Linked DNA regions of Homo sapiens: region 1 is linked to region 2. Evidence: fine-mapped expression QTL. A gene starts in region 2. The other region holds a variant in brackets. All regions are shown on one strand. Distances are from middle to middle. Region 1 overlaps RABL6 (RAB, member RAS oncogene family like 6). Region 2 holds the start of EGFL7 (EGF like domain multiple 7).

Region 1 (4,371 bases), 180 kb after region 2:
TGGCCAGGTGCTGGTGCTCATGGAGTGCTGCTGGGGCTGCCTGCCCATCAGGGGCTTGGCCTCCCAGATTGATGCCAGCATGGGGTGTGCTTTCTGGGGAGCTGCTTGACTTTGGGAAGCTCCCTGTGTTGAAGAGGCATACAGGCCAGGACATGGAGGTCTCTGGTCCTCGATAGCAGAGGGCGGCTCAGAGCATCCTCCTGAGTGGGCCTGGGCAGTGCATAGCCCCGGGGTTGCGGCCAGTGGGACAGCTGGCCCGTTCTCTGCCTCAGGCTCCTGTACAGCTAGGGGCTTGGTGCCTCCCCTGGGACCCAGGCAGGGACCACGGAATCAGTGGCCCTCCTGAGGCCCCCCAGGAGGTCTCTGTTTCCAGAAGGAGAGCCCTGTGGGTCACCTTGGATCTGGCTGTTGGCTCAGACACAGCAAGAGACCGAGAGGGAAGGCAGTTTGATGCCTGGAGAGGGACCCGTGGCTTCCAGCTGCCAGGCCAGCCCCAGAATGGAGCCCCCCGCATGGGCGCTTCTCTGTTGAACCAATCCTGGCATTTCCTGGGCCTGAGAGTTGGGTCAGCTGGATGCTGCGATGGCCGCACGTGCTCCACCAAGCCCCAGCCCCCTCCTCTTCCCAGAAACCCCCGCTCACGGGAAGGTCCAGTTGCTGCCATCTGGCCACCTCTGCATGGAGCCCCCAACAGCTGTGCCTCAGAACAGATCCGAAGTGACTTTCAGGGGAGCTGGACACATGTACGCTGGTGCCTGCTGTCCCCACCCTTTGGCACTGCTGCTCTTTCTTTTTCTGAGATGGAGTCTCGCTCTGTCGCCCAGGCTGGAGCGCAGTGGTGTGATCTCGGCTCACCGCAAGCTCCGCCTCCCGGGTTCACGCCATTCTCCTGCCTCAGCCTCCCAAGTAGCTGGGGCTACAGGCACCCGCCACCACACCCGGCTAATTTTTTTTGTATTTTTAGTAGAGACGGGGTTTCACTGCGTTAGCCAGGACGGTCTCCACCTCCTGACCTCGTGATCTGCCTGCCTTGGCCTCCTACAGTGCTGGGATTACAGGCATGAGCCACCGTGCCTGGCTGGCACTGCTGCCCTTGGAAGTGGATGGGGATGATGGCCTCTGTGGGGCGGGTGGCCCAGAACACAGTGGCTCTTCCCAGCCCCAGCAGCAGCAGCAGAGAGCCCCCTGTCACCTGAGGGCCTCAGGGAGAGGCAGGGGAGCCAGGCTTCTCACCCGCCTTCTGCCTTTCAGCTTCCTGGAGATGATGGAGGCTCGCAGCCGTGGCCATGCGTCCCCACTGGCGGCCAACGGGCAGAGCCCATCCCCGGGCTCCCAGTCACCAGTGGTGCCTGCAGGCGCTGTGTCCACGGGGAGCTCCAGCCCCGGCACACCCCAGCCCGCCCCACAGCTGCCCCTCAATGCCGCCCCACCATCCTCTGTGCCCCCTGTACCACCCTCAGAGGCCCTGCCCCCACCTGCGTGCCCCTCAGCCCCCGCCCCACGGCGCAGCATCATCTCTAGGCTGTTTGGGACGTCACCTGCCACCGAGGCAGCCCCTCCACCTCCAGGTAGGCCCTGGAGCTGCCCCTCCCAAACTGGTCCCAGACCCCCAGGCCCTCACAGGTGGGGTCCTGGATTTCGGAGCGCTCCACGCTTCTTCCTGCTTGTCCCAGTCCCGTGGGCACATCCCGGGTGGGCCTGGCTTGGGGTTGGGTGCAGTGAGGGTTCTGGTGCCGAGTGAAGAGGACCCGGCATCACTGTTCACAGAGCCAGTCCCGGCCGCAGAGGGCCCAGCAACGGTCCAGAGTGTGGAGGACTTTGTTCCTGACGACCGCCTGGACCGCAGCTTCCTGGAAGACACAACCCCCGCCAGGGACGAGAAGAAGGTGGGGGCCAAGGCTGCCCAGCAGGACAGCGACAGGTGAGGGGTGGGCCTGGGCCTCCTCTCCCATTGCCCCCCAGCCTCCAGGGTGCCCGAGCAGCAGGTGGGGCTGGCTTTCTAGGGGCGCAGAAGGGGCCCCCCGCCGGCTGGTCACTGTTGGCTGAGGACAGAGCAGCTCTGTGGCTGGAGCAGACGAGGGAAGGGCTTGGACGGGGCTTCCAGA[C/T]ATCAGAAAGGCCTGGCCACCTGCTCTGCCCACACCCTGGAGAGGACAGGGGCACCTTGGGGTCTTCTGTGGGCAGATGCCACATGGAAGCCATTGGAGAGGCCACTGCAGGTCATATGGGAGGTTCAGGCCACCAGATGTGGTCTCCACAGGGCCAGGATCCAGGTGCTGCAGAGACAGGGGCGGCTTCCTGCAGGTCCTAGAGCTGGGAGCTAGAGCCGCCTCCCCAGCCATCTGCCAGCCCCTCCCACCACTCTGTCTGCCAAGCTGCCCCAAATTTTGCCTGCAGCAAAGCCCTGCATTTGGTCCCAGGACAGCCCTGGACAAGCTCCACCCACAGTGGCCTCAGCACCTCAGCCTCACCCATTGCTGTGGGGCAGCGGCTTCCTCCAGAAATACACAAAGGACAGAAAGCCCCGTGGCCCTGAGCTGGGCCCGCCTCCTCCACGAGCGCCCACTTGTGCGGCTCCACATCCTTCACCCACTGAGCGGCCGCAGGGCAGCACTGTGTCCAACCTTGTGCCCCCGACCCCTTCCTGCTCAGAAGCCCTGTGACCATGAGGGGGCCTCTCCACAACACAGCACCTGGGGTGGGGTGGCCCCACGGCCAGGGTGTGCTGGGTACCAGGGCGCCTAGAACCAAGGCCCGTGAGCCCGGCCAGCCATCCCTACCCCGTGGCCCTTGACCGCTTTGCCCCCTGCTTTGCAGTGATGGGGAGGCCCTGGGCGGCAACCCGATGGTGGCAGGGTTCCAGGACGATGTGGACCTCGAAGACCAGCCACGTGGGAGTCCCCCGCTGCCTGCAGGCCCCGTCCCCAGTCAAGACATCACTCTTTCGAGTGAGGAGGAAGCAGAAGTGGCAGCTCCCACAAAAGGCCCTGCCCCAGCTCCCCAGCAGTGCTCAGAGCCAGAGACCAAGTGGTAAGGGCAGGTGTCCCCACGGGTGCGGCCTGGAGACCCGGGTGGGGCAGTTCAGGACGCCTCCAGAGGACCCTGACTGACCCTCTGCTTGTCCACAAAGGTCCTCCATACCAGCTTCGAAGCCACGGAGGGGGACAGCTCCCACGAGGACCGCAGCACCCCCCTGGCCAGGCGGTGTCTCTGTTCGCACAGGTCCGGAGAAGCGCAGCAGCACCAGGCCCCCTGCTGAGATGGAGCCGGGGAAGGGTGAGCAGGCCTCCTCGTCGGAGAGTGACCCCGAGGGACCCATTGCTGCACAAATGCTGTCCTTCGTCATGGATGACCCCGACTTTGAGAGCGAGGGATCAGACACACAGCGCAGGGCGGTAAGACGAGTCCTCCCGGGGCAGAGGTCAGCCAGGTGGCCAGGGTCCCTCCCACAGGCCTGATCTGGGTGGGTGCAGTGGGAGGAGGCTTCTGGAAGAGGCATCTCATGTCCCCACACTTGGGCCTTGCCGGCCTGGTTTGAGATCCCACAACCCCTGGGGGTGTGGGAGGGATGATGGCCTGACCAGTTGCTCTCCCTGCTCCAGGATGACTTTCCCGTGCGAGATGACCCCTCCGATGTGACTGACGAGGATGAGGGCCCTGCCGAGCCGCCCCCACCCCCCAAGCTCCCTCTCCCCGCCTTCAGACTGAAGAATGACTCGGACCTCTTCGGGCTGGGGCTGGAGGAGGCCGGACCCAAGGAGAGCAGTGAGGAAGGTGGGTGGGGGCACCAGAGTGCGGTCAGCCTGCTGGAGTTTGGGTAGAACGTGGGCCTCCTCCCAGCTGCTGGCCGCTGGCCGGGGTCCTCTCCTGAGTCCAGGATGCTGTGCCATGCTCCTGGCAGCCCCCTGCAGGAGCTGATGTTTGCAGTGTGGTCCTGTCCATCAGCAGGGCCTCCTGGAGGGCTGGGGCTCGCTGCTTTGTGAGTTTCTAGAGAAGTCCTGTCACCCAGCTTGGGGTCCCCGTTGGCCTGAGTTTGAGCCACTGTCTGTCCTGTCTGTGCAGGTAAGGAGGGCAAAACCCCCTCTAAGGAGAAGAAGAAGAAGAAGAAAAAAGGCAAAGAGGTACTGGCTACTCCCCTTCCTGGCAGGCCAGGACTGGGTGGCATGCGGTCCTGGGACCAGGGCTGTGGCTTCCTGTGACTCCATGGCGCCCCATCCTTGTGCTCCTCAGGAAGAAGAAAAAGCTGCCAAGAAGAAGAGCAAACACAAGAAGAGCAAGGACAAGGAGGAGGGCAAGGAGGAGCGGCGACGGCGGCAGCAGCGGCCCCCGCGCAGCAGGGAGAGGACGGCTGCCGATGAGCTGGAGGCTTTCCTG
Region 2 (4,371 bases):
TACGGTGGAGTAGCTAAGTAGCCGAGTGCACGAGTTGCTAAGGCTTGGCCCGCTGGGGGCCTTCCCGGTGAACTGACTGCTGTGCTTACAGCCAGGGGCGAGGGCAGAGTCTGGGTCCTCCCCAGGCTGTCCTCCTGGCACTGGACTCCTGGGTGACAGCCTGGGGGACTGGGCCCGGCCTGCTGCCAACTTGTTCTTCACTGCAACCCCCTCCTGACAGCTGGAGGGACAGGCTGGCCAGGGCAGGATGAGCCCCTGGGTGGGAGAGCCAGGGGGCCGAGGGAGGCACAGGGCGGCTGAGGGTGCAGCCAGTAGGGTAAGGGCCAGATCCCAGGGTGGCCTAGTGTGGAGGAGGTGGGGAAATGGGGTTCTGCCTATCTGCTCCAACCTCAGGGCAGGGGCCACCTCTGGAAAGAGGCCCCTCCCGCTCAGACCAGCGGTGCCTGGGTGCCAGGAGCGCCCCCTTAAACCAGCTCAGTGACCATGAAGCAGGTGCAGAAACAGGCCCGGAGAAGAGTGAGGTCCTGCCTGGCTGAGGCCCTGAGCCCTGACCACAGCCTGGCGCCCAGAGCAGACCCTTCCCCTGGCCGTGGGTAGAGGGGAGCTGGTTCCTGCTTGAGGGGGAGGCGCATCGCGTGTGGGTGAGGTTTCCACCTGCCCTCCAAAGTCCCGTGGGGAATTTCCCCAGCTGCCCCAGCCTCCCTTGGCTCAAGTTGCCCAGCTGAGTGGGGCTGGAGAGGTGGGGGCACACTGACCGCCCAGGGCCAGGGAAATGGGGGTGTCCCAGGCATCAGGCCGACAGGGGCTGACCCCAAAGCAGGGCTCACACCCCACGGACAGCGGGGTTGGGAGAGGCCCTGCTCTCCTGGGGTTCCAGGCGTGCCCTCCAAAGCCACCCAGCTCCCTTCGGCACCGTGTCCCCTCCCACCCAGCCCACCTTTGCCACAGTGGCTCGCTCGGCCTGAGGCTCCCACTGCCGTGTGAACAGGGAAGATGAGGGTCAGACCTGGAGGCTGGGACGCCGGGAATCTGACAGAGCACCCCCTGTGATCACCCACAGTGTCCCGCATCCCTCCCCACACCCCCGGCCGCAGCCTGCTGCCAGCCCAGAGCACCCCTGTGAAGTGGGGCTGAGGGCATTGGGCCTGCTTGCCCATCTCCAGGGCAGGGGCTCACAGCCTCACTGGCAGCTCTTTTAGGGGAGAGAGCTTGGACTCCATGCTTGTCCCCTCCCGTCACCCCCTCACCATGGGCCTCAGGGACCCACGGAACAGGCTGTTCTCGGACCGCTCAGCCTGTCTTGCCACCCCAGTCCCTTCCTGCCGGGCCTCGCCACTCGCCATCCCTCACTGGTCAAGGCTCCTGTGTGGCTGGTCCCTGCCTTGGCCTGGGGCCCCTCCAAGCTCCCGTGCTGTGTCACACACATCTGGGGGTGTCCTGGGGGAGGGCCCAGCATCCTTGGCCCAAAGATGCAGCAGCTCCCTTCTGTCCAGCCACACGTGAGCATGGCCTGTGAACCCACGGTCCTGGGAGGGCCCTGGGCTTGCGTCCTCCACCCCACACTCTCCCCAGGGTCTCCAGCAGGGTCCAGCCCTGGTTTCTGGCTGTTTTGGGGCTAGACTCTGATGGCCCAGGGGACGGCTTCCCCACCCCTGGGCAGTTTGTCCAGGCCCCCTCACACGGTGGCCCCCACCCCCCTCAGCCTCCTGTTTGTCCGACGACACGTCCCCGTTATCAGCGGAGAACACACACAGGAAGTCCGGCTGGGAAGGGCCCATCCCAATCCCGATTACCCAGGACGGAGCATAAAAAGCCGCCCTTCCTCGCCCGGGGGGAGCCTCCCTGCACCAAGCTGGCCCTGCACGGCTGCAAGGGAGGCTCCTGTGGACAGGCCAGGCAGGTGGGCCTCAGGAGGTGCCTCCAGGCGGCCAGTGGGCCTGAGGCCCCAGCAAGGGCTAGGGTCCATCTCCAGTCCCAGGACACAGCAGCGGCCACCATGGCCACGCCTGGGCTCCAGCAGCATCAGGTATGGCAGGGGTGGCCTCGGAGGGGCAGGGAGCGGACAGGGCGGGCCCCCCATTCCCCTCACTCCCGCTGACCGTGGCGCCTGCTGGCTGCTCCGCAATCTGCTCCCCAGCGAGGTCACAGGGGAGGGGTCCCAGTCTCCTCCCCTTCTGCACAGAGGAGGCCACTGAGGCCCCTTGGCCAAACGCCTGCTAGTGGGTGGCCCAGCGTAGATCCCAATCCAGTCTGCTGACTCCAACACTTCACCCCCAGTCGCCCTTCCCCTGAACCCCACCCTCTGGCCTTTCTCTCCCTCCGCAGAGCAGCCCCTGTGGTTGGCAGCAAAGTTCAGCTTGGCTGGGCCCGCTGTGAGGGGCTTCGCGCTACGCCCTGCGGTGTCCCGAGGGCTGAGGTCTCCTCATCTTCTCCCTAGCAGTGGATGAGCAACCCAACGGGGGCCCGGGGAGGGGAACTGGCCCCGAGGGAGAGGAACCCCAAAGCCACATCTGTAGCCAGGATGAGCAGTGTGAATCCAGGGTGCGGGACGTGGGGCTCGGGCTTAGGGATGACTTGCTGGGTGCGGTGGGCAAATGGGTGACTCTGTGGGCCCCCCTTGGACCCTGGAGACGCCCTTGTTCTCCCTCTCCCCAGCCTCATGCAGAGTGGCTGAAGCCCCATCCCAAAGCCCCCAAAACCACAGTGGGTCCTAGAAGGCCCCACTTTTTGTCTCATACGTCCACACCAAGAAGCCTGTCTGAGAACCCCCACTTTCCAAATGGTGCCTAGCCAGGATGGGGGCAGCGAGGGCTGAGTCGGGGCAGCCCTGGAGCTGCCCTTTCTGCTCCATCGCCTCTTCCAGACTCAGGCAGGAGAGGTGGGGAGGCAGGTCAAAGGGTTAAGTGACCGCAGATCCAGAGATGAGGCCAGGGGCAGGGGACAGGGAGGGTGGCGGTGGCTCTCCCACCCAGAGGCCCCCTAGGCCCCACTCTGAACACTTCACTGCTGGGGGCTAGGTAAGAGCTGCCCTGCGTGGGCTCAGGGCGCCAGGAGGCCTAGGACTCCCCAGTCAGATGAGGAACGCCCCCTGACAGCAGCTGCTCTGGTCGTCCCTTGGACCACGTGCCAGGGGCTTCCAGGGCCCCTGGTCCAGAGCAGTGGCCACTGGATTGCAGGGTGGGGCGGCCTCATTTTGGGGACTCCTCTCCAGGGACCTGGGCCCCTCCCTTCCTCCAGCTCCCATGCACCAAGGTAGGACCAAGCTGGTGGCCCTCTCGGACCCATCTGCAGGCCCCTTGCCCAGCACCCTGGGTTACATGGAGAGACCTCCAGCTCCACTCACAGCAGCCTCCCATCCCCATGCCAGGGAGTCCAGGGCTGGAGGCAATAACCCCATTTTACTGAGGCCAGGGGCTGCGGATCCGAGAGGACAATCAGCTCAGGACAGGATGGGGTCGGGGTAGGTGCAGGACAGGGGCCTGTAGGCCTAGTGCAGGCGGAGGTCCCACAGCAGCACCGAAAGCTGGTCCCGGGCCCCTTCCCAGCCCCCAGACATCAGGGTGACCAGGACTGTGCATAGGCACTAACCCACAACTCCTCTCCAACCAGCAGCCCCCAGGACCGGGGAGGCACAGGTGGCCCCCACCACCCGGAGGAGCAGCTCCTGCCCCTGTCCGGGGGATGACTGATTCTCCTCCGCCAGGTGAGTCCCAGCAAACCCCTTGCTCCGAGGGAACACTTCTCACACCGGCGCCCACGCGGGTTATGACACAGGGCGCTGGCTCCGGCTGGGGTCTGAGGGGCTGCTGAATTGGGCTGGCCCGAGCCCCACGTGCCGCGCCCGCAGTAACAGCTGTAACAATTGTTGTGTGGCCACGACCTCACCGTCACTAGATCCCAGGGCTGTTTAGCCCCATCTTATAAATTTGGAAATGGAGGCCTGGAGAAGAGAGGTGACCAGCCCAGGGACCTCTGGTGTGAGGAGACTCTCTGGGGGCCTGTGGATTCGCTGGGAGGAGTGTTCTGCGATGGCCCTGACTGTGCTGAACTCAGCAGTGACCCAGTGACCCCGGTGAGGGTGCCTGATGCCTGAGAGAGGGCCAGGTGGGGGCCGGCGCAGGGGCCCCCAACCTAACACGCTAAGGCTAGGAGGCAGGCCTGGGCTCTGCCATGTGGTCTCAGAGGAGATCTGGGTCTCTGGGCCTGCGGTGGGGACGGTCATGATGCCCACTGCCTGCGAGGCTGCAGGACCCAGCTCAGTGCTAACCTGCGCCGGGCGCCTACCGCGCGGCCCCCCAGCGGCTGAGATGGGCGTCCCGGGGTGGTTTTCAGCCTGGGGGGCTTGAAAGCTAGCAAAGGGCCCGCAGCCCC

Evidence for each region. PIP is the estimated chance that this variant, and not a neighbour inherited with it, causes the effect. A credible set is the group of variants that fine-mapping cannot tell apart.
Region 1: its variant is the best candidate, but not a certain one, in a credible set for the expression of EGFL7 in whole blood (TOPMed, PIP 0.90).

Annotation. Positions count from the first base shown.
Region 1 is chr9:136,836,095-136,840,465 of GRCh38, forward strand. RABL6 (RAB, member RAS oncogene family like 6) reads left to right here. Exons shown (of 15, transcript NM_024718.5): 9 at 1,252-1,568; 10 at 1,768-1,921; 11 at 2,815-3,027; 12 at 3,128-3,392; 13 at 3,600-3,771; 14 at 4,060-4,118; 15 at 4,228-4,371. Among named protein-coding and RNA genes, the nearest start is that of AJM1, 4.2 kb to the right of the region's middle. RefSeq lists an enhancer at 2,222-3,103. The variant C/T (reference allele first, on the strand shown) is at 2,106.
Region 2 is chr9:136,661,083-136,665,453 of GRCh38, forward strand. EGFL7 (EGF like domain multiple 7) reads left to right here and starts at 1,834. Exons shown (of 11, transcript NM_016215.5): 1 at 1,834-2,026; 2 at 2,326-2,541; 3 at 3,610-3,703.